Linked DNA regions of Homo sapiens: regions 1, 3, 4, 5, 6 and 7 are each reported to be linked to region 2. The links are microRNA targets in miRTarBase. Many come from high-throughput screens and were not tested one by one. Region 2 holds a microRNA gene; each other region holds the end of a gene's coding sequence.

Region 1 (4,498 bases), not on the chromosome of region 2:
CAGCCAGAACCCGAACCTGAACCCGGGCTGCTTTTGGAAGTGGAGGAGCCAGGGACGGAGGAGGAGCGTGGGGCTGACACAGCTCCCACCCTGGCCCCTGAAGCGCTCCCCTCCCAGGGAGAGGTGGAGAGGGAAGGGGAAAGCCCTGCGGCAGGGCCCCCTCCCCAGGAGCTTGTTGAAGAAGAGCCCTCTGCTCCCCCAACCCTGTTGGAAGAGGAGACTGAGGATGGGAGTGACAAGGTGCAGCCCCCACCAGAGACACCTGCAGAAGAAGAGATGGAGACAGAGACAGAGGCCGAAGCTCTCCAGGAAAAGGTGAGAGGCCAGGCAGGGAAGGTTCCTTGGGCGAGAAGGTGGGGCTGGCGGGAGAAGGGGTGGCAGCTGCTTCTCTTAGGAGAGGTTTGCCCAGCCTGAACCATTCTTCTGTGTATGTGTGTGTGACTATTCTGAATCTTGTATCTTTGTGCCTAAAAGGAGCAGGATGACACAGCTGCCATGCTGGCCGACTTCATCGATTGTCCCCCTGATGATGAGAAGCCACCACCTCCCACAGAGCCTGACTCCTAGCCATCTTCTGCACCCCACTCTTTGTTTCCAATAAAGTTATGTCCTTAGATAGCGACTGCTGCTTCTGCCTTTTGCCACACCTGGGTCCCCAGCCAGAAGCTCAAGTGTCTGCTGGGCTTTTCAGGGTGTCCATAGTATTCCCCAGATGTCTCCATAGCTGTCCTCTTTTTGACGATCCAGAGAGGAACAACTGACATTGGTGTAATGGACTGTCCCATCACTCAGCACGATGGTGTCAGAATTGTAGGATTCTGGCTGGATGCTAAACGTGCAGAATTGTGTGTAGGGTTAAGAATGAGGAGTTATAGAGACACAGCCCTGCTTTCGTGTTTGTATTCGGGGTGGGAAATGTGTGGAGAATGCATCCTAGTGAGTGGACCTGTGTCAACACCCACATGCCCACACGCATGCGTGCTCAGCCCCTTGGTCTGAAAGGGCAGGCTGAGTGATTGCTCAGTCTATGGAAGTTTAGGAAATTAGGAAAAGGTGTGGAGCAGTTTAGTCATTGAATTCTGGGAAATTTGGACCTTACCCCAAGATGAAAGGGTGTCCGTAGTGGGTACGTTGGGAATGACCTCTGTTTTGGGGCTAGTCCTCCTAATGACAGTTCCCCTCACAGCTCCCTGGCAGGAGTTTGATAAGCTCACCCCAGGCCTTCCTGCTCACTCTTGAGGTGTGGATATTTCCCACCCAGTGTCTTTTCTTTTCTTTTTTTTTTTGAGATGGACTCCTGCTCTGTCGCCCAGGCTGGAGTGCAGTGGCATGGTCTCAGCTCACTGCAACCTCTGCCTCCCAGGTTCAAGCAATTCTCTGCCTCAGCCTCCTGAGTAGCTGGGATTACAGGCGCCTGCCACTGCCTGGCTAATTTTTGTATTTTTAGTAGAGGTGGGGTTTCACCATGTTGGCCAGGCTGGTCTTGAACTCCTGAGCTCATGGTCCACCTGCCTTGGACTCCCAAAGTGCTGGGATCACAAGCATGAGACACCGCACCTGACTGTCCCAGTGTCTTTTCTTTAAGCACTAATCCTATTCTAGGCCTTGCTGGGATGGACGTGTGAGGATGAACCGAGAGATGTGTCTGTGAGAGGGTACCAAGATTGGTGGGCTTGAACTAGGGGCCCCGTGGTTTTTTTTGCTCAGTCAGTTGAATCATGAACGTAAGTAAAGTGCCTTCGCAATGCAGAAGAGGGAGTCATTTCTCCCAACATGTATCCTGAAGAGCCCTTTGAGGAGGTGGCATTTGAGCTAATTTTTGGAAACTTCAGTAGGATTTTAAAAAGTTACCCCTCAACTTGTTTTCGAAATAAACAGAAAAGTGAGAACAGTATAATAGATAACCTTTGCCTAGATTTGCCAATTAACATTTAGTCATGTTAACTCTTATCCCTATAAACTGCGTATCTACATGTAGACATGTATCTATATTACACCCATATATCTGTCTAATCTATACATCTGTAGTTATACACATTTCTTTTTTCATGGGACCACGTGAAAGTAAGCTGTAGACACCGTGGCCCTTCCCATCCCAGATTCTTTAACATGAATTATCTTCTAAGATAAGAATGTTTTTCTGCACAATCCTGATACCATTATCAAACCTAAGAAAAATAACAGTAATCCAGTGATAATTGTGATATTAAAATTTTCCTATTAATTCCTAAACTGTCTTAATAGCTTTTTTTTTTTTTTTTCCTCCTCTGAGTTCAAGAGGAATTTCTTCTAGGTGGAGAAGGCCCTGGAAGGTTTAAGGATCACTGCAAGGACAAGGGTGTAGTGTGAAAAGTGCAATAGTGGTTTTTCAGAAAGGGAAAGAACCTGATTTCTGGAAACTAGATAGGTGAAGTTGACATTGATTTTGGGGAAGAGGCTAGAACAGAATTTTTTCTCATTTGAATGGTGTTCTGGATCGGGAAAACATCCACATGGTTCAAAACTCAAGAGGTACAAAAGGTTTGTTGAAAAGTCCTCTTTAGCCATGAGATTTTCTGCCAGAGCAGCCAGTATGATCAGTTTTTGCATATTCATCTGGAGATATTGTATGCACATACAAATATATATATAATTTTAAATGCAAATGGTAGTATATTATCACGTAACATAAATCAGAGGCTGTCTCTACTAAAAAATGCAAAAAATTAGCTGGGTGTGGTGGCAGGCACCTGTAGTCCCAGCTGCTCAGGAGGCTGAGGTGAGAGAATGGCGTGAACCCGGGAGGCGGAGCTTGCAGTGAGCCATCGCGCCACTGCACTCCAGCCTGGGCGACAGTGAGACTCCATCTCAAAAAAAAAATTAGCTGGATGTGGTGGAGTGCACCTGTAATCTCAGCTACTCGGGAGGCTGAGACAGGAGAATTGCTTGAACCCAGGAGGCGGAAATTGCAGTGAGCCGAGATCGCGCCACTGCACTCCAGCCTGGGCAACAGAGTGAGATTTCGTCTAAAAAAAAAAAATATATATATATATATATATATATATATATATATGTGTGATATATATATATATGTGTGTGTGTGTATATATATATGTGTGTGTATATATATATGTGTGTATATATATGTGTATATATATATGTGTGTATATATGTGTGTGTGTATATATATGTATGTGTGTATATGCATGTATGTATCTATATGTATGTGTGTATATATATGTATGTATGTGTATATATATAATGTATGTAACTATAGGTCCACAGGAGGTTGCAGAGATGCTAATGAGAGGGTAGGGATGACAAGCTGTCCTTCAGCCAGTTTCCTCCAGTGGTTACATCTTACATTATTACAGTAAAACCATAAATTTGATGTTGGTAGTCATTGATAGGCACTGTTTTACAAAGCTGGAGATACAGCAGTGAACAAAATGCAGAAATCTCTGCCCTGCCCTTGTGGGATCTATATTCTAGATATTTTGGGGGTGGGGGGTAGACAAATAAGTAAGATGTATATTTGATGGTGAGCACAGTGGGAAAATAAAGCAAGGAAAGGGATAGATTCGTGTGGGTGTATTGTTTTCAGTATTTTGAATTTTTAAATTTTAACTTATTTAGTTTTCAAGATGGAGTCTTGCCCCAGGCTGGAGTGCAGCGTTATAATCTCGGCTCACTGCACCTCTGCCTCCTGGGTTCAAGCACTTCTCCTGCCTCAGCCTCCTGAGTAGCTGAGTAGCCGGGCATGCACCACCACGCCCGGCTACTTTTTGTATTTTTAGTAGAAATGAGGTTTCATCATGTTGGCCAGGCTGGTCTTGAACTCCTGACCTCGTGATCCGCCTGCCTCAGCCTCCCAAAGTGCTGGGATTATAGGTGTGAGCCACCGCGCCCAGCCTGTTTTCAATATTTTATAATGAAAATTTTTGAACATTCGGAGAAGTTGAAAGAATTACACCCAGAACACCCATGTCTACCATGTTACTACATGTGTGTGTGTGTGTGTGTGTGTGTGTGTGTGCAATTTTAATTACAATGGTCGAGGAAGCTCTTGCTGAGAAGGTGATGTTGAATAAAGACTCTAAAGACCCTAAAGAGTTGAGAGAGAGCTGTGTGGAGTTCTGGGGCCCAGGCACAGCAAGTACAAGGATCCTGAAGCAGGAGCATTCTTGGTGTGTTCAAGGAAAGCAAGGAGGCCAGTGAGGTTGGAAAAGGGAATGAGGTCAGAGTAATAATAGGGTGAAAGAGGATGGCTGGGGGATGGGGGGGCAGTGAGGCAGGGCCTATGGTTTCTACTTGGTGAGGTGGGAAGCCACTGGAGGGGTTTAAGCCGATAATTGATGTCACATAATTTATGTTGTAATGGAACCCGTGTGACTGCTCCTGGGGAACAGACAAAAGAAAGGGTAGTAGAGACACCAGCTAGGAAGCAGATTCAGCTAGAAGAGATGATACCTTCCACTAAGGTGTTGGAGAAGTGGTTGGATTCTAGATAATTTTTGAA
Region 2 (4,612 bases):
GGCCTTTAGGTGGGGGTGCTGTTTGCATGTGGGACTCAAGGAGTGCCTGGTGGCAGCTAGGGGTGAAGGGGACATAGCCTTTGGAAGAGGCAGGGCTTGGGTCAGGGCAGGATTTTGGTCTTTGTCCTAAGAGCTATGGAGTCAGTGAAGAGTTTTAAGCAGAGTTTGACAAATCGTTTCTTTTCTTTCTTCTTCTTCTCCCAAATTGATTGCCTTTGTTTATTTGGGCTGCTGTGATAAAATACCATAGACAAGGTAGCTTATGAACAACAGAAATTTATTTCTCATAGTTCTGGAGGCTGGGAAGTCCAAGATGAAGACAGCAGCAGATTTGGTGTCTGGTGGGGGCTCACTCTCTGTTTTAGAGATGATGCCTTGTAGCGGTGTTCTCACAGCAGAAGGGACAGACAAGTTCCCTCTGGGGCCTCCATCTATGTATACATATATATGTGTGTATATATCCATGTATGTATACATATATATGTATGTATGTATCTAGCTACCTAGCTAAGTGTATTTTTCTCCTGAAATCCCTTTTACCACTCTGGCCTCTTCTATAAGGACCCTGATCTCATTCCAGAGGGGTCTGCCCTCATGACTTAATCACTTCCCACAAGGCTTCACTCTTACTACTATTATCTTGGGGACTAGGTCTCAACATAGGAATTTTGTGGGGACACAGACATTCAGACCGTGGCACTGATGATGGTTTAGTCATGCCTAGTATTTTTATTTAACTAGGTTGGAGGATTATCTTGTTTGTGTATGAAGGGTTGAAGTATTTATATGTTATGTACTGGCAAACATTTAAAAGTAGATAAATGCAAAGCTGAACCTATTTGGAGCAGTTGCTTCTTAATTGTTTCTGAGTTGGGGGTGCTGTGATGGATGAAGCTCACTTTGGCAGGTATGTGTGGCTGGGGCCAGCCCCACCCCGGTGGACTTCCTTTCCTGAAGGATTCCTAATGGCCCTTAGCATTGACTTCTCTCCTGCTGCACTTGCTTTGCTTGTATGCACATTGCCAGTTTCCTTCCACCATGGAGATAACAATTTCTTGAGAAATGAAAGGAGGGGTCAGATGCATTCGGGGTGGAGGTGTACCAGCTCCCACCTCACTGAGGCATCTGATGAGGGTAGACAGGTGTCCTTGGTCAGACGCTTTTACCTTTGAGGCACTGGGGTGCAGACTTCCCACCTCCAGTCAGAACAAAATATAGACAGTAACAACCCCTTCCTCTAAAGAAAGAAAAGGACCCTGCCATTGTATCTCAGACTGGGAGAGGGAAGGGCATTTTCATTAGCAATTTTCAGTTCTGGTATTTATGTAGTGGGGTCTTAATGATATTTGATTGGGTGTTTACCTATATCGTATCAGGCTAGCCCTCAGCTGGGTTTCGTTTACTTTCACAGAATGAATGTATTGTGGAAATGGTAAACTAGGTAGTCGTGACTAATTAGTGGCTTCTAACTAGTGTTCTGTGAAATACTCTGCCTAAAGTGCTCAGTTCAGTAAACATCCTGAGCACTCGGTTGTGTGAGACCATCTGAGGGGCAAGGAGCTGAGAGGATCCCTAGGGAGACTGTGGCTTTCATGATTGTCCAGTAGGCAGTAGCTCACCAGCCAGCACAGGGGGCCCTCAGTCGGCTAGAGATTCAGGATGGTTTTGCTCCCTGATCTAGTCTTTGAGCATCTGCTGTTGTGTCCTACTAGAGCATCACCTCCTAGGAGGAGATTTTGTCAGTATAGTTCACTACTGTGCCTTTCATGCTTAGAGGATGCCAGATGCTTATTGCCTAACCCAAGCTTTAAGCCCTCATATCCTCTTGGAGTGTGTGTGTGTGTGTGTGTGTGTGTGTGTGTGTGTGTGTGTGTAAACCTCTCCCTCTCTGGATCAGTGAGAGTGTTGTTAAGGTTACAAATAAGAAATGCCTAGCACACTGCCTGACTGATTGTAAGTGCTCTGTAAATGGTGGCTACACACCCCAGGCCTGCTGGCATTGCTGCCACTGTTGCCCCTCTGACTCTTTTGAGCCAGTAGGTGAAGTGTGTCTCCACTCCCTTGGGTGGAGTGGACAGGGTGCCTTTCTCAAGGGCAGTTGTGAGGGCTGAGCTGGCCGGGAAGGTGTGCTCTTCCTTCCAGGCCTCCCTCCCACAGGTCTTCTGCGGGCCCTGCAGTTGGCCCTGCTCTGACTCTTAGTTTTTGCTTCATTCTTGACCCACTCAGGCCTGGTAGAAAGAGTTATCTGTGAGCACGGCGGGGGTTCCCAAGAATCTATTATGGTTTTAGTGTCTAGGACTCTAAAGTCGTGACAGTGACTCGTCTCTTCAGCCCCTGTTTGCAGCAGAGGGCGCAAACCAGCTCAAAGCAGGCACACAGATGTTTGGTGAATTGGGAGAAGTTGTTCCTGTCCAGGAGCCATAACGTGGTATTTGTAATTTTCCTCGTTGGAAGGCATGGCTCTGTCTGCCAAGAAAGACAAGGCATGTAGTCACCATGCTGCTGCCTCACAGTGACATTTTTAAAGCCAGACCTTCTAGAGAAGGAAGCAGGAAGGAAGGCGACTTGCTTTTGGGCCCGTGGAGTTTCAGCAGTTGCGGGAAGTTGGCTGGGCTGTGTGTGTGTGTTGCTGCATTGGTGCCTGGTCTTCTTTGATAGCTCCCAGGAGCATGAGGTTGTGCTTAGCAGTTGTGTCCCATCAGTCCTCTTGGTCTCGATCAGTTCACACGCTCCCAGGGCCCCACGTATCAGAAGGGCCGCCGTTGCATAACACTGTCCATGGAAATCACTGCAGTCATGAGAGGAGCAGTGGCTTTGGCCTGTAGACTCAGAGACCTTTCACCATGACTCAGCATGGGAAGCGGAGGCTCAGAGAACTTCAGCCTGTCTTGTCCAGGGCCACCAAGGGAGCAACTGAGCCATGTCTTCTGTTATATTTAGAGTTGGGGGCTGAGGAGGGGCGCCTATCTGCATTCTCTGCCGGTCCTGGGTCCACCTGTTGCAGGGACCCAATTCTAAGGGACCTGAATCAATTCAATCTACTGCCTCAGCCTTTCAGAGGCTTCTCATTGCTTTAGGCTGAAGGCTGTGCTGCTGAACATGGCCTTCAGGGTCCCATGGGGTCTGACTCCTGTCATTTCCTCTGTTGCAGGCCCACTTGACTTCTTGCAGTTCTTCAGATGTATTGTCTTCCCGACAGGCCCTGCCTCAGGCTGTCCCTTTGCAGGGCGGGCTGTCTCTTCTCTGGTTACTTCTGTTCGTTCTTCAGAGAAGCCTTCCCTGTTCCTCCCATTCCTCACTGCCGTGCTTCTCCTTCACAGCCCTTACCACTGCCTGTAGTTACTGTATTTCTTTGTGTACTCATCTGTGGTCTAGCTCCCTTGCAAGGCTGGGAGCTCCATGGGGCAGGGACCCTGTCTGTCTTGTCTCTGGTTTACCCCAGTGCCTCACACGGCCTGGTACATAGTGGGTGTCCAGCATCGACTTGAGGAAGAGTGATGAGGGAAGGCTCCAGACCCTTTCAGGGGCAGAGTTGCTCTACTGCTCCTGCTCCTGCTGCTTGGGGCTCATCATCCTCTGCCCTGCACACCCGTGGCAGGGGGGGTCTGCCCACACCCACCTGCCTTTGTGCCACACTCCCTTCCCTAGCAGGACGATGGTTCCTCTCAGCACTGTCCTTTTTGTTTGGCCTCCTGGTGGGAGGTGAAGCCAGCTGGACTTCCTGGGTCGAGTGGGGACTTGGAGAACTTTTCTGTCTAGCTAGAGGATTGTAAACACACCAGTCAGCGCTGTGTCTAGCTAAAGGATTGTAAATGCACCAATCAGCACTCTGTAAAAACGCACCAATCAGTGCTCTGTGTCCAGCTAAAGGATTGTAAACACACCAATCAGTACTCTGTAAAATGGATCAATCAGCACTCTGTAAAATGGACCAATCAGCGCTCTGTAAAATGGACCAATGAGCAGGATGTGGGCAGGGACAAATGAGGGAATAAAAGCTGGCCACCCCACCCAGCAGCGGCAACCTGCTCGGGTCCCCTTCCATGCTGTGGAACCTTTGTTCTTTCGCTCTTCATCATAAATCTTACTGCTGCTCACTCTTTGGGTCCGTGCCACCTTTAAGAGCTGCAACACTCACCGCAAAGGTCTGCAGCTTCATTCTTGAAGTTGGCGAGACTAAGAACCCACCAGAAGGAACCAATTCTGGACACTGGGAAGGATGTTACCTTCGGACACAGTGTTGTTCACTTTTTTGACTGGGAACCGACAGCAGATAATACACCTTTGTATGTAAATGTATACTGTCAGTATGTACATAAAACTGAAAGAAAAATGTCACTGCTACATATAGTAAAGCTAAGTACTATTTTCTCTTTTAATACTAAAAAAAATGCTTGTCCCCTCAAAATTGACTTCTTATCTTCTTAATTTGATATCCTGGCCCACAGTGGGTCACCACTCAAGTTTAGAGAAGCCCATTCTGCAGGACTGCCTGGCTGTGCAGCTGGTGCTCCCTCCCTCCCTGCTGCATTTTCCTCTCCCCCTCACTGTGGGATGGGGCTGAGGTTGTTCCCTTGGGTAAGAGGCTGTCCCTCCCTGCCTTCAGCAGTTT
Region 3 (4,545 bases), not on the chromosome of region 2:
AGGTGTGTGCTGCCACACCCGCTAATTTTTTTGTATTTTGTATTTTTTTTGGAGATGGAGTCTCACGCCTGGCTAATTTTTGTATTTTTAGTAGAGACGGAGTTTCACCATGTTGGCCAGGCTGGTCTTTTGAACTCCTGACCTCAGGTGATCCACTCGCCTTGGCCTGTTAAAGTGCTGAGATTACAGGTGTGAGCTGCCACACGCGGCCTGGGCTGACTATTGAACCTTGTTGTAAATCAGCTGTGCCACACTGCCTTAGGGTCACGTGCCCCCTTGGAGAATGTGAAAAACATGCTCTCCCACTGACAAGTGCACGTGCAAAAACCTTTTGGTTTAAACCATTCTGGGAGATTCATAGGCTCTCCCATGAAACCCAAACTCTGGGCCCACGTCAGGTGGCCAGTGAAGTGGCAGTAGTCCCCTCCACGCCTGTCACCCTTCACACCACCAGGCCCTGCACACCATCTCCTCCCAGGATCCTGCGACACCCACAGTGAGGGAGAGGAAGGGACTACCAGTTCCTTTTGACAGACAGGAGGCTCCTGCTCAGAGAAGTTGGACGCCAGGCCTGGAGCCACGGCCAAGCCCAGGGGAGGGCAGGGCCTCAATGGGCACGCATTTGGTTCCTTACTCTTCCTGATGAGGGCAGTTTTGAAATCAGCAAATTCAGTGATGGGGACAGAGACGGGGAGCTTCTGAATGTGGCTGCAGGTGTTAGTATAGAGGCTTGAACTGGTTCTAGGAGATTCCTAGGGTGTCCTTTGAATGTTGTCTTTTTAGAACTAAATCCTTGCTAGGTGTCCCCTCTGTCACTCTTATCTTCTCCTTCATTGCCCTTATCACAATCTGACAGGCCCTGCCTGTGGTTCTTAGCTGTTTCCCATGGTTAGAAGGTAATGTTGGTATCCCAGGACCCTGGTGCTCATCAGCCCCATGATAAACAGCTGTGAAATGCATCTGGCTAAGTGTGAGATGGTGCGGCTGCCACAACCCCTCCTGCCTGGCCTGAGATCTGGTTGGAGCTTGTGTCACTGTCACCCTCTCGGTCCTTAAGCCCTTCTCACCTCTCTTTCAGTTCTTTGCGTGTTTGGTGATGATCGCCTATGGAGTGAGTGCCTTCTTCAGCTACCAGGCCTGGCGAGGAGTAGGCAGCAATGCGGCCACCAGTCAGATGGCTGGCGGCTATGCCTAAACCACCTGTGCCACGGCCCCCTCTGGGGCTGAAGCCGCCGCTGGGTCACAGAGCAGGGTCACCCTGCAAGCCTGAAGCTGGGGAGCCCTGCGTGGAGTCAGCCCAACAGGGACTGCATTTGCTCCTCTCTGCCCGTCAGACATAAGCTCTCACAGCGCTAAGGAAGCAGGCCCAGGCTGGCAGGCATCTCGGCTTGCAGGAGGCCAACTGCTGAGACCTCTTCTCCATCCCCCTTATTCAGTGGAAGATGACGGGGGATCTGAGGCTGTGTCTCTGCCTTGTCTTTAGAGGACTTCAGCGTCCAAGACTGGGGCCCACCCTTCTCACCAGCACTAAATGCACTAACAAGGACTCCAGACCTGCAGCCCCAGACCCGCCGTAGTATAAGCCTAACAAGCAACACGTAGCACCTTAGTCTTTGTTCCAGGAGAGCTGAGCAAGCTGGTGAAACCACTCTCCTTCCTTTAAACACCGTTTCAACCAACCTCTCCCTGGAGCCAACCTGTAAAAAGTGGGTTGATTGCTGACAGCATGGTCTTCCCTCCCTGCATTTCAGACATACCAGTTACTGAAAGCAAATCAGTTTTAAGTGATTTCTCAGTGCTGAAAAGCCTGTCCAGGTTTCCTTCCCTTTCCCAAGCCTCTCTCTGTAATACTCCCTTTGGGCGAAGCTAACATCGGTGCCTCCCCGACCTTGCTGACTAGGCACATGGGACGCAAAGGAGGGAGGGAAGCAAGGCCTTGCCTGGCGAGTTGTCATGTGGTTGGTGGTGACTGTTTTATTTTTTTTAATAAAAATAAAGATGAGAGAAATTATTTGGACAAGATGTTGGCAAATCACTTTTACAGGTGCTTGTAACCTCCAGGAGACCTCAGCTTGACTGTAGAAGATGCCTGCTGTAGGGCAGTTCACGTTCTGGAGTCGTTCAGCACCACCTGCGAACTCTTTGACCGGAGGAAGGCTGCCTATACTTCCTGCTTGCTGGGTCTGGAACAGTCCTGGTTTATGCTGTTTGTGCTGGCATAAATAGAATAGCACGGCCTTTTATTCTCACAAGTGACTCAGTTTGACAATAACTTAGTCACCCTTGCTTTGGGCAGGTTAGGTGAGCTTACTGAATCAAAGATTTCAACAATATCATCTACCTTGAAAGTCTGTGAAGCTTGGAGGTCATATAATCAAGGTGGCTGGCCATGCTGCCTGCTCAGAGCTGGTAGAGACAGCAGAGGAAAGCAGCTGAGTACTCCTGAGCTTATTTTTCCAACACCACAGAACAACGTTCTCTGAACAATAAGGTAAAAGCATTTCTAGGTACCCTCTGTACCCTTTTGTTATTTTTTATTTTTATTTTTTGGAGACCGAGTCTTGCTCTAGTGCCCAGGCTGGAGTGCAATGGCGCAATCTTGGCTCACTGCAATCTCCGCCTTCTGGGTTCAAGCAATTCTCCTGCCTCAGCCTCCTGAGTAGCTGAGACTACAGGTGAGCGCCACCACGCCCAGCTGATTTTTTGTATTTTTAGTAGAGATGGGGTTTCACCATGTTAGCCAGGATGGTCTTGATCTCCTGACTTCATGATCCGCCTGCCTTAGCCTCCCAAAGTGCTGGGATTACAGGTGTGAGCCACCACACCTGGCCGATTTTTTTTTTTTTTAAGAGACAGGGTCTTGCTCTCTTGCCCAGGTTGGAGTACAGTGCCACAACTACAGCTCACTGCAGCCTTGACTGCCCAGGCTCAAGCAATCCTCCCACCTCAGCTTCCTCAGTAGCTTGGACTACAAGTGCAGGCCACCATGCCCAGCTAATTTTTGTTTTTTTTTTTTTTTGAGATGGAGTCTCACTTTGTCACCCAGGCTGGACTGCAGTGGCGTGATCTCGGCTCACTGCAACCTCTGCCTCCCAGATTCAAGCGATTCTCCTGCCTCAGCCTCCCGAGTAACGGACTACAGGTGCGTGCCACCATGCCTGGCTAATGTTTTGTATTTTTAGTAGAGACGGGGTTTCACCGTGTTAGCCAGGATGGTCTCGATCTCCTGACCTCGTGATCCGCCCGTCTCGGCCTCCCAAAGTGCTGGGATTACCAGCGTGAGCCACTGTGCCCGGCTGATTTTTAAATTTTTTGTAGACATTGGGTCTCGCTATATTGCTTAGGCTGGTCTTAAACTCCCAGCTTCAAGTGATCCTCCCATCTCAGCCTCCCAAAGCGCTGAGATTATCGGCATGAACCACCACACTTGGCCCTGGTATAAATATTAATAGCATCACTTTTTACTCTAAAGTCTCGGAGTTTGAATAATAAATTAGTCCTTCCAGGAGTAAGTTATAAGAGTTTGGTTTTAAGGAAGGGCAATACACTTAAATGTAAAACAAAATCCCAGGCAAGTTAGAGAGCTCACCCCTCTTATGTTTCCAACATGAATCAAAAGCCTGTTTCAGGGGGGACATTAAAGGCATTCAGTCAATGCTAAGGCTCAGCAGTTTGTGTGACTACTGCTTCCCACTGGGGAGGAGTCCTAAGCAAGAGGACTGGGGCTTCCTCACCCCAGGGCAGGTGGGAGCCCCATCAAAGGTGGCACCTGACATCACAGTCTAAGTGTCTGAGGATGGAGAGACAGGCTGCTAGTTTATTTTAAAAGAAATCAGAATGTCTACTTATAATATTAAGTGACAACAGACTTGCCTCCTTTTTGCTGAGCAGAAAGGGTGAAAAAACCAGCCAGGCATGGTGGCTCACACCTGTGATCCCAGCACTTTGGGAGGTGGGTGATCACCTGAAGTCAGGAGTTCAAGACCAGCCTGACCAACATGGTGAAACCCTGTCTCTACTAAAAATACAAAAATTAGCTGGGCGTGTTTGTGGACACCTATAATCCCGGCTGCTTGGGAGGCTGAGGCAGCAGAATCACTGGAACTCGGGAGGTGGAGGTTGCAGTGTGCCGAGATCGTGCCATTGCACTCCAGCCTGGGCAACAAAAGCAAAACTCCATTCCCAAAAAAAAAAGAAAAAAAAAAGGGTGAAAAACCAATTTGCCTTTATCATCGTTTTTTCATCATTTAATCTCTGGACTTGTCCACTGGCCTTTTCTCAAGTAGGCAGGCTGGTCCACAGGTCTTAGCAAGTGCTCCCAGCATGCCTGGGCTGTGGTGGACCTCCCATTTATAGACAAAGCAAGGGAAAGCAAGCCCAGGAGAGGTGGCATTTAAAAAAAAAAAAAAAAGACCAAAGCAATAATTAATAACCTTATGGCAGTGGCTACATTAAAGAAAGAATACAACTCATTGAGAATGGTGGTTCTTGCGAAACACCTGAAGTTTTACTCATGGTACAAAAGTATTTAATAAGTGACACATC
Region 4 (4,612 bases), not on the chromosome of region 2:
GCTCTCCAAGTATGTCCCTGTGGCCAATCGCTATGAGGGCACTGAGGATGATTATGGTGATGACCCTTCGACCAACTCGTTTGAGAAAGAGAAGCAGGACTATGTCTATTGCCTGGAGTCATCCCTGCAGACCTACAACCCAGACTACGTCCTGATGGTAGAAGACGATGCTGTACCAGAAGAGCAGATCTTCCCAGTCTTGGAGCACCTTCTGCGGGCTCGCTTCTCTGAGCCACATCTCAGAGATGCCCTTTATCTCAAGCTGTATCACCCCGAGAGGCTCCAGCACTACATCAATCCAGAGCCCATGCGGATCCTGGAATGGGTTGGTGTAGGCATGTTGCTGGGGCCCTTACTAACCTGGATATACATGAGGTTTGCCAGCCGCCCAGGGTTTAGCTGGCCTGTAATGCTCTTCTTCTCCCTGTATAGCATGGGTCTGGTGGAGCTGGTGGGTCGGCACTATTTCCTGGAACTGCGGCGGCTGAGTCCTTCCCTGTACAGTGTGGTTCCTGCCTCTCAGTGTTGCACCCCAGCCATGCTCTTCCCGGCACCTGCGGCCCGCCGGACCCTCACCTACCTGTCCCAAGTGTACTGCCACAAGGGCTTTGGCAAGGACATGGCACTGTACTCGCTGTTGAGGGCCAAGGGAGAGAGGGCCTATGTAGTGGAGCCGAACCTCGTGAAACACATCGGGCTCTTCTCCAGTCTCCGGTACAACTTTCATCCCAGTCTCCTCTAGGGTGCCAAGAGATGCCTTTCTGAAGTTGGCCACTTCTTGAAGATTCAAATATTTATCTCTTTATTTAGACATGGTTGCCTGCAGGTATTTCACTGTTTACTGTTGTTAGAGATATAGGCACTGGGGCAGCTGAGGAACCTCAATATGTTAAGAGCCTTGGCTTTGGTAGCCTCCTGGCAGGAGCAGCAGTTTGCCACAGGTCCGGACCTCTCCCTCCACACAGCCACACTGCCTCATGCAGTCTGACCCACCCAGTGAGGGTGCATTTGAACACTGATTATATTCTCCATTTGTTTTTAAGCTCTGCTTTGTGTTAGAGCTTGTGACTGCCAAAAATTTTGTGCACAGTGATATGACTGTTTTAGGATCTTAAGGGTAGAATTTTGTGAAAGGTGAGATCCTTTGGAATTGAGTTCTTTCTCATTGGGTATGAAAATGGATGTATGTTTAGAATATATGCCCAACGAGGCAGGACCATGTGGATAGATTCCATTTGTTTCCTTGACCTGATGTAATAAAAACTGATAAAAGCCGTGCAGTGCCCGGCATCTTGGAGGCAGGTGATCTGGCTTTTCTGTTACCTGGGATTTTCTTTTCCTATATATCTGTAGTGCACTGATAATTGATATTGTTAGTGAGAACTTTAAGGCACGACAAGATCTGGAAGAGCTTGTGAACCATCAAAGTCAGATTGCTTATGTTGAGTAGTGATTTAACATTGAACATTTCTGTACTACTCTGACTCTTTGAAAATTGGACATTTCAGAATGATACAATATAGGGGAGCTCTTTACAAGTAGCATATCATTTTTCCTGACTTTCCTGGCTGACTGCTTACCTTCATTTCTTTTTCTTCTAGGTAGCATGATGTTATAGAAAAAAAAAAAAAAAAATCATGGACTGAAGTCAGAAGACCTGACCTTTTATTTCAGATCTCTGCCATGGCCTAACGACGTGACCACCTTGGGCAGGTCATATAATCACTCTGGGTCTCAATTTCTTCACCTGTAAAATGAGGACAGTAATACTTACATGTTAAAGTTGCCTTGAGGATTAAATGGCAGAATATATGTAAAACACCTAGCAAGTGCTTAGTCCATAGAAGACGCTTGGCAAACTTTTCTCTCCTATAATAAACATATACAACTCAAGCTTATTTCGGAAAAAGATATTGGTGATGTTGTTTAAAGTATGAGATAGGGCATGGAGCTGCCACCTATGTACCAGCTATTCCAGATGACCAAGCCCTGCTAGAATAAAGACTGACTTTTCATTGTGACCTCTGAAGGATGTGCAGCTCAGCTTTCACCTATCCCCACGTTCACCCAAGCCAAAAAGAAGAATTGTTCATTCAAACTGGAAATGATCTCCAGCTTGGAAATGAGACTCCTCATGAGCTTATTCTAAGATCAGAGTCTGAAAATTATTTTCTCAAAAGTTACAAATAAATGTCTTTTAACAGTACTGTCAGACTAGTGACCAACAAGTTACTTTATGAGGATGGATGATGATATTAGAGTTCAAGCAATTGTCCAGTTTGTTTCGATGCCACAGTTTGCTTTTAAATTCCCATAGTGAGCTTCCATCTTGAGACCCACTCAACACAGAAGGATTACATAAAGGTTGATCACCCACGCTCTACAGATGAACAAATTGAGACCCAGAGATGCTAAACTGCTCTGCAGGTCACAAACCTGAACAGCAGCATAGCCAAAATGGGAACGGAGCTCTTCTGACTTCAAGCCCCTGCACTTTTTTCTTAACCACATTAATTTTATGAATATCTATGTGGTCAAAGTCTCTTTTGTAAAATCTGAGTATAAGCTGAACTAGATCATGTCTCTGTAAGCTAAGATGGCAGAAACACATTGTCATGTTAGTTTGGAGGAGCAAACAGATATAAGTATGTGTTGTAATGTTATAGTGAGCTGTTATGTATCCCCCAGCAATGTCCAAAGTGATCAGAGCTACTAGATGACTTATTACAATGTTCAGATCCCACTCCTTCATTCCTCCTCTCTCAGTGACCTGTCTACCCCCAAGCTTTAGAACTGAGCTCTCTCCAACTTAGAACTCATTAGAGTTTGTTGCATTAGTGATTGGATCTCCTCATGAAAGTTTTTTGACCAATGACAGTAGAGCCCCTTTAAGCTAGCCAGGCCCAAGATAGGGAAGCACTGCTGGTTTACATTTCTGCTCTTTCTAATTCAGTTGTCTATTGCATGCAGACATCCCCTGCCCGACTTCTCCATTATGGAAGGCTAAGGCCATCCTTCCTTGTCCAGTTTCTCTACCTACACACTAACATGCCTTTTCCCCATGGAGTGAACTCTGCCAGTTGTCTTTGGACATTTTCTGCAGATGCAGGCTCAGTTCTGCTCTTTTGTTCCCACCCACTTCTAGATCTTCCTCCATTTAATCCCTTATTCTTATAAGGAGTCTAATTTTTGTGTATTGTCCTTGATTAGGGCAGCTGACAGCTTTACACCAAAGCTGAAGTCTCTCACTTAATCCTAAGCAAGGGGCTAGGGAGAACTAAGATATCCTTCCCATATCAAGGGATATAGGTTACTAGAAGGGTGGAGGTCTCTTAACAGGCTCACTCACCTTTCAGAGTTTAAATTATGGTCAGGCTTAAGAAGCTCTCTCTTGTGACTGAGTGTATTGCATAGACATGTCTGTGAAAATAAAAGCACCCATTTTGCTAAGGCTTTCTGAGAAGACTTTTATCATTCTCTGTCTTTCCTTTTCATGAATGGATTTTTCTGATGTGGCAAATAGTATGGGCTCCCTGCGCCCACACACAGTTTTGTAGTCCCAAGGGAGCCATTCAGAAGTATTGGCTGCTGCCTGCACAAGCAACCATGGCCACAGATCCCTGGGTCACAGCAATGTCAGAGCATTTATCCATCTTTTTCTGGGTAAAAAAAGTGGGGGTCACTGCTACCACCCAGATCATCTTACCTCTCACTGGTATACCCCTGGTACAATGTGGTGATCATTCCTTCACTCTTTCCTGCCTCTTGCCCTAAAAGTCTTAGAATAAGTTGCAGAGCTGCCATGGGTGGTATTCCTGTCTAGTGCTCCATTGGCCACCCCAAGAACATGCAGCAACACCTGTAGGCTGAAAGAGAAAACCCAGCCTTCCCCTGAGAGAAACACGCAGAGATCCCTCACACCCATCCTCCCCCCACTCCCAACACACACACTGAAAACAAAACCACTAACAACAACAAAGTAAAAAACAGCTGTGTGTAGTGATGGAAAGACTTCCTCTTAGCACTTGCCATTCCCTCTGCTTGGAATGCATGTAAAAAACTTTTTTATAGGGGCTAAAATTGTACACTATAACCAATTCTCAGTCCCTAGACCCCATTCTTTGTTCCTCTTCTTCCTGATTTTCTTCCCTAGTCCATTTCTTTTTGTCCAGTATTCCTTTTGTTCATAGGCAGTTCCACTGTGAGTCCTGTACTCTTTCTCATTCATTCATGGCTCACTGTGTGTCATGTTCTATTCTAGGTGTTGGGGATATAGCAGTGAACGAAACAGAAGACCCCTGACACTGAGGAGCTCATGTTCTATGGGGAAGGTGAAGTGGAAAAAAACTCAAAAGAATAAATAAGGGAATTTCAAGAGGTTTGAAGGAAATCTAACTAGGTAATGTGATTGCGGGACCTAGGGATAGGGAAGGGCATAGACTGCTTTAGATAGGATGGGAAATCTCTTAGGGGAGATTAAAATTGAACTAAGACCTGAATTACATGGAAAAATTTAGTCAAAGGAAAAGCATTCCAGAGAGAGAGCATGGCAGTGCAAAGCCTTGCAGAAAGAACCAGTGTAGAAAGTCCAAGGATGAAAGAAAGCCAGTGT
Region 5 (4,556 bases), not on the chromosome of region 2:
TTTTTTTTTGAGACAGAGTCTCACTCTATCGCCCAGGCTGGAGTGCAGTGGCATGATCTTGGCTCACTGCAACCTCTGCCACATGGTTCAAGTGATTCTCCTGCCTCAGCCTCTCAAGTAGCTGGGATCACAGATGCCTGCCACCACACCCAGCTAATTTTTTGTATTTTTAGTAGAGATGGGGTTTCACCATCTTGGCCAGGCTGGTTTTGAACTCATGACCTCATGATCCACCTGCCTCAGTCTCCCGAAGTGCTGGGATTACAGGTGTGAACCACCGCACCCAGCCAAAGCACACTATTTTTTGACACAGTCAATTTTATCAATCTTTTCCTTTATGGTATTTGAATATTTTAGAAACACGTGTCTGACACCAAAGTCGTTAACATATCCCACTATATTTTTTCTAATACTTTTGCTTTAGTAATTTACATTTAGATTTTTATTCAGTTAGAACTTATACTTGTTAATGGTGTGAAATAAGGATCCCATTCAATTTACTTATACAAGAGAGGGGAGAGTGAGGAGGCTTTTGGCAAGGGCTACTGACATAACTTTCACATACAAAGGCTTCAAGAGGCTTTTCATCATGTCTTCTTAGAAGCCACAGCCTGTACATAAGCCAACTCCAAGCCTGAACTTCTCTAGGGATCCTTTGGGCAGACTAGATTCCATTTTTAAAACCCTTCGGTCATTCGCATATAACATGCAGCATCTTCTGCTACAATTCATGAACACTCTTCCCTGTTTTGCCTTTTACAAAATTATTTCATCCACTCAAAAGCCTCACCTTTTTTTTTTTTTTAAGAATCATTTACATTGTTCTATGTGTATAATAGAATCTGGAGGGAAAGACATTGTGTGCCGAGTTTTTGAACTTCAAAATAAAATTCTACTTTTCCCAATTAAAATTCTGAAGTTGACAAATTGCCTACCAGAGTTTGTACAAACTCATGCTCTTTTAAATTAGTGCATAGTATCTCTTTTTGTATGCTTTCAATGCAGTTTTATTAATCTGATATTGAAAAAAATAGTATTTCATTGGCCTAAACTGTATTTCTTCTGATCCTAGGGAGATTTAGTACTTACCACATATTTATTGGTCACCTGTTGCCTCTTCATATCCTTTGACTATGAGCTGGAGAAAAGCGTCATTTCCTAAGGGATTTTTATGAGCAATTTTATGTTAAGGATATGAATTCCATAGTTTATATGTGCTGCAATAATTTTCTCCCATTCTTAGGTTTAAAAAATATTGTATCTTTTACTATCTTTGATCATATAAAAGCTTTATAAAGTTCTTATACAGTCAAATCTATGACTTGTTGACAGGAGGTGGGGAGGCTTCTGAATCTCATGTTTAGGAAGGCCAGTCTCATTCCATGATTAGAGTGTGTCACAGACTCCTCTAATCACTGTTTGTTCCACATTTAGATAAAGCACTTGAAAGTAACTTTCACATATGGAATGAATTGTTGTATAGAGCACGATAAATTTTTCCAAAACTGTTAAACCACTGATGGTATAGGTCACTTTTGTTATAATTTTCTTTATATGTGTAACAGCATGAATATGTATGTTCACACATACATGTTAAAACCTTACAAAATTTATTAGAATTTTGTTAGGTAGAATCTGTAAATTAATTCATGGGCTACTGACATCAGTATGATAGTGAATCTGTCTTACCATATAAAGGATAAAATATTTATTTGTCTTCTTTTTCATCCTCCATTAAACTTTCGTCATTCTGTTTGTATCTATAGTCACATGTGAATTGATCACTGCATTGATTATATGCCAAAAGAATTCTGGGGTCAGGAAGTAATATTAAAAGAGGTCAGATGTAAAGAATCAGGGAGTGGTTTGAATGTTGGAGAAAGGGAAAACACATGGTCTGCTGAAGGTATTCATATGTATTTTAAACTTAATGCATACAGAATCAAACATGTTTGTGGGCCAGTTTATGAGAACTGACCTACAGTTTTGGTTTCTTTTCTTCACTAGTTTTGAAATTTTAGTAATTTAACAACCTTTATTATTTTAAATGACATAGATTTGATATAATTCATTCACCCAGATTTAGAACAGGGGTTCAAACTTATACTTTATTTTCTACTCATCATTGGTTACTGACTTGTTTCAAGATTTCTTTTTAATTTCGATTTTGCCTTTGTTTACATGTAAATGATGAATACATCTCAGTAAACTGTCTTATTAAAAATGACTTTTTAGGCCAGGCACGGTAGCTCACGCATGTAATCCCAGCACTTTGGGAGGCCAAGGCAGGCGGATCACCGGACGTCAGGAGTTAGAGAAAAGCCTGGCCGACATGTCAAAACCCTCTCTCTACTAAAAATACAAAAATTAGCTGGGCGTGGTGGTGCAGGCCTGTAATCCCAGCTACTCAGGAGGCTGAGGCAGGAGAATCACTTGAACACAGGAGGCGGAGGTTGCAGTGAGCCAAGATTGCACTACTGCACTCAAGCCTGAGCAACAGAGCAAGACTCCATCTCAAAAAAAAAGACTTTTAAAATAAGACATTAGCATCTTAGAACTGTTAAATATCCAGTGAATGCTGATACAAGCCACCATCTTACCCTATATCATGGACTCTAATGTAAATCCTACTGTTAGATACCCTCCTCACCTACTTTTAGAAAAATGCCTACCATTCCTAAAAAAAAAAAAACTTCACAATCTCTCAGTCCTGAGCTGCTGCATCTCTTTTTATTTCTGAGATAATCATGGCTGAGATGATTGGCTTTCTATGTATAGTATGGTTATCTTTTTACTTTACATTATGGTTTGAGTAATTACTTTATGCTAGGCACGCTGCTGAGCAATTTACATGCATTATTTCATTCTTCTATTAACTTCTGAGGTAGAACCATTATTATTCCCACACTATAAATAAGACTGAAGCTTACAAAGCACAAACTGCTGCCCCCAAATTAGAGGGCAGGAAATGGAAGTGCAAAGATTGGAACCCAGGTCTTTTTGATCCTGGAATATGTATCTTAATCCTGGATAAGTATTCAGAGAATGAGATGGATAGTGACACAAGATAGAAACTTTGGAAGGTAACCTGGAACAAGGTGTTAGAGGCTAGGTTTTTAGGCTATTTTGAAGAATGTGTGCTTTAACTTAAAAACCATGGGATGCCACTGAGGGATTTTAATGAGGGAGAAATGAGATTAAACATATTTTTAAAAATACAAATTTGGTTGCAATGTGGACATCTGACAGAGACAATGGTGAGTACAAGGAGACCAATTAGAAAGCTACTCGAGTATCCCATGTCAAATATATTAATGTGCATTGGACAAGGATGATGGGATGGAAATGGATTCAAGAGGTGGATTCCAGAAATATTCAGGAGATGAAACCTACAGGTCTTGGCAACTGATTTGATGTGGAGGGTGAGGGAGAGGAAAGAGTCAAGAATGACTCCATAGTATGAATTCTCTCATGATGAGCAAGATGTGCACGCTGCCTGAAAGATTTCCTGCAATCTTTACATTCATAGGGTCTTTCTCCAGTATGAATTCTCTGATGTAGAGTAAGAGATCCACTATAGCTAAATGCTTTCCCACAAACATTACATTCATAAGGTTTCTCTCCAGTATGAATTCTCTGATGTTGAGCAAGGCCTGCATTCTGGCTAAATGTTTTCCTACATTCCTTACACATATAGGGTTTTTCTCCAGTATGACTTCTCTGATGTTGTGCAAGTGATGAACTATTGCTAAAGGCCTTCCCACATTCAATACATTCATAGGGTTTCTCTCCAGTATGAACCCTCTGATGTTGATCAAGGTATGCAATTTGGCTGAAGGCTTTCCTACATACTTTACATTCATAAGGTTTTTCTCCAGTATGAACTCTCTGATGTTGAGCAAGGTGTGCATACTGGCTGAAGGCTTTCCTACATTCCTTACATTCGTAGGGTCTCTCTCCAGTATGAATTCTCTGATGTACAATTAGGTATCCACGATGGCTAAAGGCTTTCCCACACACATTACACACATAAGGTTTCTCTCCTGTATGAATTCTCTGATGCTGAGCAAGAAATGAACCATTACTAAAGGCCTTTCCACATTCAATACATTCGAAAGGTCTCTCTCCAGTATGAACTCTCTGATGCTGAGTCAGGTGTGCAATCTGGCTGAAGGCTTTTTTACATTCTTTACACTGATAAGGTTTCTCTCCAGTATGAACTCTCTGATGTTGGGCCAGGTGTGCATTCTGGCTGAAGGCTTTCCTACATTCTTTACATTCATAGGGTTTCTCTCCAGTATGTATTCTCTTATGTTGCGCCAAGTTTGCACTCTGGCTGAACGTTTTCCCACATTCAACACATGCATAGGGTTTCTCTCCAGTATGAATTCTCTGATGAAGAGTAAGGGATGAGCTCTGGTTGAAGACTTTCTCACAATCATTACATTTCAAAAGTTTCTTTTCTACATAGACTTTCCTATGTTTCATTTCAACAGATTTTTTTCGGTAACTTTTCTTTTGTGGTTCATGCTTATGTGCTTTTTCTTTGGTGGGAA
Region 6 (4,121 bases), not on the chromosome of region 2:
TATTAGCCATGCTTGTCTGGTGTATCTCTGACTGGAGAATGTTGTGGACGTTTGATAACCGTTTCCTGAAAAATTTTGTCCCTGGCAAAATAGAACCCTTTAAAAGTCATTCTCTGTATCCTCCATGTTATGTGCATGATGTTAGTTTTTGGATAGATCAGAAGAAAGGATTTGATGAACTAGAGTTTCACACTGTGGCCCGAGCAGTGTCTCAGGACACTATTATATCCATACAGTTTCTTAGCCGTTTCCAGCATCCAAAGACTCAACAGGTCAGTCTCTGCTATAGATTGACCTACCAGACCTGTGACAAGGCCCTCACCCAGCAGCAAGTAGCATCAATGCAGTCCCAGTTTAGGAAGGAGATTCAACAACACCTATATGTTATACCTCGGTAGTTTGGTAAATCCTTTTCTGCAGTGTGATCCTTCATTGCGGGGGATGTGGAGGAAAATTACCAACTTGCAACCAGTAGTCCTTTCTGGATTTTTGTTTTTGTAAAATCTTTTACTTTGTGACCATAGCTACTGTTCGTTGATCTTTTTTTTTTTTTTTTTTTGAGACGGAGTCTTGCTCTGCCGCCCAGGCGGGAGTGCAGTGGCAGTGGCATGATATCAGCTCACTATAAGCTCCACCTCCCAGGTTCATGCCATTCTCCTGCCTCAGCCTCCCGAGTAGCTGGGACTACAGGCACCTGCCACCACGCCTGGCTAATTTTTTTTTTTGTATTTTTAGTAGAGACGAGGTTTCACCGTGTTAGCCAGGATGGTCTCAATCTCCCGGCCTCGTGATCTGCCTGCGTCGGCCTCCCAAAGTGCTGGGATTATAGATGTGAGCCACCGCGCCCGGCCTACTGTTAGTTGATCTTAAAGATACCTTGACTCTATTACTGAAACTTATAGATTATAATGTGATTGGTGACATTTGGAGTTGTGTAATATTTTGGTCCCGAGAAGTGACTAAAACAATAAACAAAACAGCATCTTGTACTTTAGATGCTCTATTGTTGAACAGGCAGTAGAACTTAAGTGTCTCATCAAATATAAATATGTTTTCCACACTGTCAATTACTCTTCCCTTAACTTTGTTGTATCATTTCATTAAATCACCTTATGAGAGTAGTTTTTGGCATCAGACTAACATTTATTAGCTTGGGAAATTGCAAATATTCCACATTAATTTTGGTATTATTATTATAATCATCACCATTTTAATTCTGTGGTTGAAAGTCATGGAACGAATAAAGTGTCAGATTTAGGGTTAACATTTGGGTCTGTTTGACTCTAAAGCCCATGTTCTTTCTGCTACTTTCTGTTACTTCTTCCCTAGTCTTTAACAGTAATCGTTCAACTGTGATTAAACTTTGCCTCTCTGGATTTTGGGGCCTTCTGTTGTAAGTATCTCTAAGGGACACTGGAAAATTAGCTTAGGATTCTGCAGAATGCGGTACTCTAATGTGAAGTAATGTATGCTCCTGTTAATAGTTAGGCTCCACATTTGGGATTATATTCTGTGAGAGACATGACTGTCTTATTTATTCTTAGAGAAAAGCACTTGGGAAGGCAAGAATGGAAGTACAGAGACAAATTAGGAGGTTATTGCAGTAATGCAAATGAGATAATGACCTGGACCAAGGTGGTAAAATGTTGGGTTGGATAATATTTGGAAGGACTTGCTGATGAATTAAACATTTGTGTGTGGGTGAGAGAGGTGTGGGGTTAGAGAAATAAAGGAATTAAGCAAGACTACTAGGTTTTTGACCTGAATACCTAGAAGATTGGAAGTGTCATTAACTTGGATGGAAACACTGCCATACGAGTAAGTTTGGGGAGTGGGATAAAGAATCAAGGGATCTCTTACAGACACATCTATTGCTGAGCTCTCCACATTGACTATTTTGCTAACTGATGGCAGGTAATGTGATTTATCCCTTTCTTCTATCCTCAGTAGTGCTTGGTACATGTATAAGGTAGCGTTTGAAAGCTGGATCTTAAAACAAGGGCAGGAATGTGAAGGGAGAATTGTTAGGCAAGTAGGGTGTGCATTTTGGGCAGAGGACATCCATAAACAGAGATATAGATAAGGGAGCATTTGGGGGCACTTTCTAGGCTAGTTAGCTGGGATGTAAAGTGTGCATAGGAAAGTAGTGGGAGATAAGATTGGAACGGTAAGTTGGGGCTGGAGTTCATGAATACCAAATGCTAGAATAAGGAGTTTGTACTTTATTTGGTAGGCAATAGGAAAACATCCGGTGGTTTTTTATTAAGGAAGTGCCCCAGAGTAGTGCTTTGGAAAATTAACTGGTTAATGTTGCACAGGATGAATTTGAGATGAGTGATCCCTGTGGAGATGCTATTGTGTTAGTCCTACGTAGACAGGGAGGGACCTGCATTAGACTTAAATGAAAAGGAGGAGATGGGTATATGAGATACAGTTAGGCTGGGTGTAGTGGCTCACGCCTATAATCCCAGCATTCTGGGAGGCTGAGGTAAGTGGATCACTTGAGGCCAGGAGTTCCAGACCAGCCTGGCCAACATGACGAAACCTAATCTCTACTAAAAATACAAAAATTAGCCAGTGTGGTGGCAATAGTCCCTGCTACTAGGGAGGCTGAGGCAAGACAATCTCTTGAACCTAGGGGGCAGAGGTTGCAGTAAGCTGAGATTGTGCCACTGCACTCTAGCCTGGGTGAGCAAGGAAGACTCTTGTCTCAAAAAAAAAAAAAAAAAAAGAAGAAAAAGAAAAGAAAAAAAGAGTTAAGCTGGATATTTGAACTTGGTAACTAATGACTGCATGTGAGAATTGAGCAATATGATCAATCTCCATTTTCAATACTTGGGAATTTTTAGTAGGAAATCACAACCTTCTGAGACCTTGTCAAGAGATTAGCATTCCCTCTATAAACTTGTCCCAGTTACTGGCATGGAGCTCGACAGGGTAGGATATAGCTCTGTGATTAGAGGAGTGGATAGAGTGTCAGGATTAGATGAATGACCCCCAAGATATGGGGGTCACAGGTATGATATCATCAATGTGCCAGTATAAAAATGATTGTAGGAAATGAAGACCTTTCACCAGATCTGGTGGGAAGAGAGAGCATGGGCTTTCCGGTAAGATAGTCCTGGGCTGGAACATAGCTCCACCATTTACTAGCTCCAAGTTTATTTAGTTTCCTGGTAAATAAAACAAGGTTGTTGTATTAAGTTTAAAAAGGATAAAATATGTAAAATGCCTACCACAATGCCGTAGTAGCGATGACAGTGATGGACATCTGGTTCAATTTGCCGCACAGAATTTCATCAGTCTACACTCTGCCATTACCGGTTTGTCTCTCTGAAGCAGTTTTTAGCTACAGGCTGCCTCTGTCACTCTTACCAAAATACAGAGAAGGCAAGGTGTTAAAAATGACATTTTAAGGACCTTTTAGTAGATAGCTGTGCTGTGATATTTAACTGAATACTTCACATCTCACTATGTAGATTTCTTTAATCACTTTCTATTTGTTTTTTCATTTAAATAGGGGAGCTGAGAGGTGGTTTTTTTTTTTTTTGAGAATGGAGAATGCTGAAAAGTGACGGAAAAGAGGGTTGGAGGGAGGTAGGAATGGCTAGAGTTAGAAGCAGGTGGATGGGACAGCCCTGATGAAGAAACTCCTCAGGTTCTATTTCTTCGCTACTCGGGGATCTGCCCCAATTGGCCCAGTAACGCTATAATTTAGTATTTTCTGCGCATGTCAAGGTCTTTTGTCCCTCGGCGGACACCGTTTGCCAGCCAAAGCTATGTCTGCGCGCTCACCGACTTCATAGGGTGCCGAATTCTTTTTTCCCCAGGCTTGCCATGGCTAGTCGAGGGGCTCGGCAGCGCCTGAAGGGCAGCGGGGCCAGCAGTGGGGATACGGCCCCGGCTGCGGACAAGCTGCGGGAGCTGCTGGGCAGCCGAGAGGCGGGCGGCGCGGAGCACCGGACCGAGTACGTGTGCGGCGCGGCAGGGGCGTGGCCGGCCGGCGGGGCGGTTCGGGGCTGCCCCCGGGAGGGTCTTAGCTGTGGCGCGCGGGGCTCAGTCCGGCCTGGCCTCACCGCGGGAGGCCCGAGCTCCCTCTTCAGCTAGGTCCTATTGGTCTT
Region 7 (4,507 bases), not on the chromosome of region 2:
TCCCGACCTCAAGTGATTCGCCCACCTTGGCCTCCCAAAGTGCTGGGATTACAGGCGTGAGCCACCACGCCCAGCTCTTTTTTTTTTTTTTTTTTTTTTATATGGAGTCTCGCTCTGTCGCCCAGGCTGTAGTGCAACGGCACAATCTTGGCTTACTCCAATCTTCACCTCCGGGTTCAAGCAATTCTCCTGACTCAGCCTCCCGAGTGGGATTACAGGCACCCACCACCATGCCTGGCTATTTTTGTAGTTTTAGTAGAGACTGGGTTTCACCATATTCATCAGGCTGGTCTCAAACTCCTGACCTCAGGTGATTCATCTGCCTCTGCCAGAATTTCTCTTTAAATTCAACAAGATTCAGTTTTACAGTCTGGAAAAAAAATGTCCTCTCTATATGAACAATCAATCTTCACCATTGATATTTTTCATCTTTGACTTGAAGTTACAAACTAACTTCAGCAGGAATATTTATGAATTATTATGGATAATCTATTACACAGTGAAAACTGTAATATATGTTTGCTACATTTATATATAAAAACATCCTCATGACTAATGAAGCCTCCCTAGTACTTAGCTGAACAAATTGACTCAATAAATATGCTTATGTCAATTATAAAAAGTGAAAGGAACAAATCACTAAAGAAAACCTATATATTGTTCTCCTCTTAAAAGAACAAAATGGAGTGCTCTAACTAAATAAAATGTAACTTAATACACTACTTTTGGAATTACATCTAAAGATTATTTTGTGTGCACTAAATTTCATAAAAATTCTTATAATCGCAGACCAGCTCACATAATGAATACTTCATAAAATATAAAACAAAAAAAATGTAAGAAACAAAAAAAGTATGGGTCTAGCATGAGTACCAGGCAAGTATATACAGAGAATTTGCTTGGGAAGATTCAGAACTCTAAGTCATAGACTGTACAGTAATAAATTCAATACAAACCAAAAAGTATACATTTGCTTTCAGCATTTTTTAGGTTTTTAGTTTTATAGTAGTCACCATATTAAAATGATTTTTGTTCCCGTATCATTCTTTCCTTCTGAAAATATGTACAAACTCATACTCACACACACATACTTAACTCCATAATTTTCTTACACCTAAGATTTGTCTTTAGACTAACATGTATTTAACTCTATATGAATCAAAACTAAAAGTCTGTATATGTTTGCAGGCAGACAGGCCACATGTTCAAAGAAAAATATATAGAAAATTTGAAAATATATTTTACTTTTTGAGATGGAGTCTCGCTCTGTTGCCCAGGCTGGAGTGCAGTGGGGTGATCTTGGCTCATTGCAACCTCCACCTCCCAGGTTCAAGCGATTCTCCTGCCTCAGCCTCCTGAGTAGCTGGGATTACAGGCACATGCCACCACGCCTGGCTAATTTTTGTATTTTTAGTAGAGACGGGATTTCTCCATATTGGCCATGCTGGTCTCGAACTGCTGACCTCAAGATCCACTCCCTCGCTCAGCCTGTCAAAGTGCTGGGATTACAGACGTGAGCCACCACACCTGGCATGAGAAAATATTTATTAAGAATTTAGAAATGAATTTCATTTATACTCGTATATAATTTTTATTATGACGATAAAAATAACACTGTGGTAAATAAAAATTTAATTGTACATTTAAAAATTTTTTTTTAAAGTGTAGAATTGGATTGTTTGTAAAACAAAGGAGAAATGCTACAGATGATGGATGCCTTACTTAACCCTGCTACTATTATATATTGTATTCTCCTATTAAAATATGCTACAGGCTGGGCGTGGTGGCTCAAGCCTGTAATCCCAGCACTTTGGGAGGCTGAGGCGGGCGGATCACATGAGGTCAGGAGTTCAAGACCAGCTTGGCCAATATGGTGAAACCCCATCTCTACTAGAAATACACAAATTAGCTGGGCATGGTGGCTGGCACCTGTTATCCCAGCTACTTGGGATGCTGAGGCAGAAGAGTTGCTTGAAACCAGAAGGCAGAGGTTGTAGTGAGCTGAGATCATGCCAATGCACTCCAGCCTGGGCGAAAGAGTGAAACTCAGTCTCAAAAAACAAACGAACAAACAAACAAAAGAATCTCTCTCTTTGATGTAGCAACAATTAACCCCATGCTTTCACATGTGAATCCAATAGGAATGAAGAAACAACAGGAAATAATTTCAGAGTTGAATGATGACATTATTCAATTTTCAAAAAATCTGTAATATTTTTCAAGAAATAAAGTATACTTTGAATGTAATTATAACTCTGCAAAAAACCTTCTGATCCTCTTAAAGTTCTATACAAATAACTTTTCTACCAACTTTAGTTTCAGATTTTCTATACTTAGCACTCTGATTTAGTATATCTGAAGTGTCAGTACCTTATATATTTCTACCATAAATTCTCTGATATTTGCATAGACTTAATTATGGATTAAATATTTTACTTTTACTGCATCTGGAAAAAATATATTCTAGTATAACTGTTGATTTCTAAGCTGTAGTTTTTGAAAAATTGTTTTTCCAAATTTATTATATTTGCACAATTTTTCAATATAAATTCCCTGATGTTGAACAAAGTTTGATCAACTGCTTCAGAGTTTTCCTCTAGAAGAAAATGTCTACAAAAAGATCTGTGATACAAGTAAAGGCACTACAACCCTTTTTATATTTGTGATGTTCAACTTCAAAATAAATACTCTTCACTAAAAAAGCTTATATTTTCTGAAAGATCTTTTGACAGTAATTGCACTTATAATGCTTTTATTAAGCAGGAACTCTCTGTGTTGAGTAAAATGTGAGCAGATAATGATGGCTTTTTCACAGTCTTTATATTTGTATAATTTATCTCAAGTATAAATGCTTTCCTAGCAATAAAGTGTGAGCATTAAGTTTTGCCATATTGTTCACACATGTAGGCGTTTTCTCCAGTATGAATTATCTTACCTACAATGAAGTGTGACAACCATTTAAAGGCTTTATCTCACTCTTCAGATTTCTAGGATTTCTCACCAGTATAATTACTTTTATGGTTAGAAAAGTTTGAGGCGTTGTCAAAAGTAGTCACATCTTTCTGATTTGTAGAGTTTCTCTCCAGTATAAATTATCTTATGTCTGTTAAGAATTGAGGGCTTCTTAAAGGCTTTGCCATGTTTTTCACACTTGTGGGGTTTTTGTACAGTATAAATTTTTTTTGAGACGGAGTCTCACTCTGTTGCCAAACTGGAGTGCAGTGGTACAATCTTGGCTCACTGCAACTTCCACCTCCCAGGTTCAAGTGATTATCCTGCCTAAGCCTCCCGAGTAGATGGGAATACAGGCACGTGCCACCACACCCAGATAATTTTTGTATTTTTAGTAGAGACAGGGTTTCACCATGTTGGCCAGGATGGTCTCGATCTCTTGACCTTGTGATCCACCCACCTCAGCCTCCCAAAATGCTGGGAGCCATTTTGCATAAGCCACCGCACCCGGCCAATATTTAATGCTTAGTAAGAGTTGAGGACTGCTTAAAGGCTTTCCCACATTCTTGACATTTGTAGAGTTTCTCTCCAGTATGAATTATTTTGTTTAATAAGGTTTGAGGACTGGTTAAATGTATTGTCACATTCTTCACAGTTGTAGGGTTTCTGTCTAGTATGAATTTTCCTATGTTTAGTAAGAGTTGAGGATTGGTTAAAGGCTTTACCACATTCTTCACATTTGTAAGATTTCTCTCCTGTATGAATTATCTTATGTTTAGTAAGATTTGAGGATCGGTTAAAAGCTTTGCCACATTCTTCACATTTGTAGGGTTTCTCTCCAGTGTGAATTCTCTTATGTGTAGTAAGGATTGATGACTGGCTAAAAGCTTTGCCACATTCTTCACATTTGTAAGGTTTCTCTCCAGTATGAATTATCTTATGTGCAGTAAGTTGTGGGGACCGGTTAAAAGCTTTGCCACATTCTTCACATTTGTAGGGTTTCTCTCCAGTATGAATCATCTTATGTGTAGTAAGGTTTGAGGACTCATTAAAGGCTTTGCCACACACTTCACATTTGTAGGGTTTCTCTCCAGTATGAATTCTTTTATGTTTAGTAAGGGTTGAGGACCAATTAAAGCCTTTGCCACATTCTTCACATTTGTAAGATTTTTCTCCAGTATGAATTATCTTATGTTTAGTAAGGTATGAGAATCGATTAAAAGCTTTGTCACATTCCTCACATTTGTAGGGTTTCTCTCCAGCATGAATGAACTTATGTGTACTAAGGGTTGAAGACTGGTTAAAAGCTTTGCCACATTCTTCACATTTGTAGGGCTTCTCTCCAGTATGAATTATCTTATGTGTAGTAAGGTGTGAGGACCGGTTGAAGGCTTTGCCACATTCTTCACATCTATATGGTTTCTCCCCAGTATGAATTATCTTATGTGTAGTAAGGGTTGAGGACTGCTTAAAAGCTTTGCCACATTCTTCACATTTGAAGGGTTTCTCTCCAGTATGAATTCTCTTGTGTCTAGTAAGGGTTGAGAACCATTTA

Evidence for each region. Region 2 holds the annotated microRNA hsa-miR-1827 (UGAGGCAGUAGAUUGAAU, at 3,032-3,049, opposite strand). A microRNA usually pairs through its seed, bases 2 to 8, with sites in the 3' UTR of a target mRNA and lowers its output. Matches are read on the target gene's strand: a 7mer-m8 pairs with bases 2 to 8, a 7mer-A1 pairs with bases 2 to 7 and ends in A, and an 8mer does both.
Region 1: the mRNA of PELP1 is a reported target of hsa-miR-1827. Seed matches in the 3' UTR shown: 7mer-m8 at 1,353-1,359 and 8mer at 1,378-1,385.
Region 3: the mRNA of PLLP is a reported target of hsa-miR-1827. The part of its 3' UTR that is shown has no 7-base or 8-base seed match.
Region 4: the mRNA of PGAP4 is a reported target of hsa-miR-1827. Seed matches in the 3' UTR shown: 8mer at 971-978.
Region 5: the mRNA of ZNF583 is a reported target of hsa-miR-1827. Seed matches in the 3' UTR shown: 8mer at 2,417-2,424.
Region 6: the mRNA of FDXACB1 is a reported target of hsa-miR-1827. Seed matches in the 3' UTR shown: 8mer at 658-665.
Region 7: the mRNA of ZNF431 is a reported target of hsa-miR-1827. Seed matches in the 3' UTR shown: 8mer at 1,955-1,962.

Annotation. Positions count from the first base shown.
Region 1 is chr17:4,667,508-4,672,005 of GRCh38, reverse strand. It overlaps PELP1 (proline, glutamate and leucine rich protein 1), which reads left to right. Exons shown (of 17, transcript NM_014389.3): 16 at 1-315; 17 at 475-2,232. The coding sequence ends at 567. Among named protein-coding and RNA genes, the nearest start is that of ALOX15, 28 kb to the right of the region's middle. RefSeq lists an enhancer at 1,810-1,979.
Region 2 is chr12:100,188,369-100,192,980 of GRCh38, reverse strand. MIR1827 (microRNA 1827) reads right to left here and starts at 3,097; the gene lies at 3,032-3,097.
Region 3 is chr16:57,253,563-57,258,107 of GRCh38, reverse strand. PLLP (plasmolipin) reads left to right here. Exons shown (of 4, transcript NM_015993.3): 4 at 1,079-2,011. The coding sequence ends at 1,195. It overlaps ARL2BP (ARF like GTPase 2 binding protein), which reads right to left. Exons shown (of 6, transcript NM_012106.4): 6 at 4,473-4,545. Among named protein-coding and RNA genes, the nearest start is that of ARL2BP, 11 kb to the right of the region's middle.
Region 4 is chr9:101,472,011-101,476,622 of GRCh38, reverse strand. It overlaps PGAP4 (post-GPI attachment to proteins GalNAc transferase 4), which reads left to right. Exons shown (of 2, transcript NM_032342.3): 2 at 1-3,453. The coding sequence ends at 742. The region is part of intron 1 of TMEM246-AS1 (TMEM246 antisense RNA 1); the gene reads right to left. Among named protein-coding and RNA genes, the nearest start is that of TMEM246-AS1, 5.9 kb to the right of the region's middle.
Region 5 is chr19:56,423,188-56,427,743 of GRCh38, reverse strand. ZNF583 (zinc finger protein 583) reads right to left here. Exons shown (of 5, transcript NM_152478.3): 5 at 380-4,556. The coding sequence ends at 3,376. Among named protein-coding and RNA genes, the nearest start is that of ZNF583, 21 kb to the right of the region's middle.
Region 6 is chr11:111,871,199-111,875,319 of GRCh38, reverse strand. FDXACB1 (ferredoxin-fold anticodon binding domain containing 1) reads left to right here. Exons shown (of 5, transcript NM_138378.3): 5 at 1-1,264. The coding sequence ends at 398. It overlaps ALG9 (ALG9 alpha-1,2-mannosyltransferase), which reads left to right and starts at 3,739. Exons shown (of 15, transcript NM_024740.2): 1 at 3,739-3,968. The coding sequence starts at 3,838. RefSeq lists a silencer at 3,794-4,103.
Region 7 is chr19:21,183,026-21,187,532 of GRCh38, reverse strand. It overlaps ZNF431 (zinc finger protein 431), which reads right to left. Exons shown (of 5, transcript NM_133473.4): 5 at 1-4,507. The coding sequence ends at 3,499. Among named protein-coding and RNA genes, the nearest start is that of ZNF431, 43 kb to the right of the region's middle.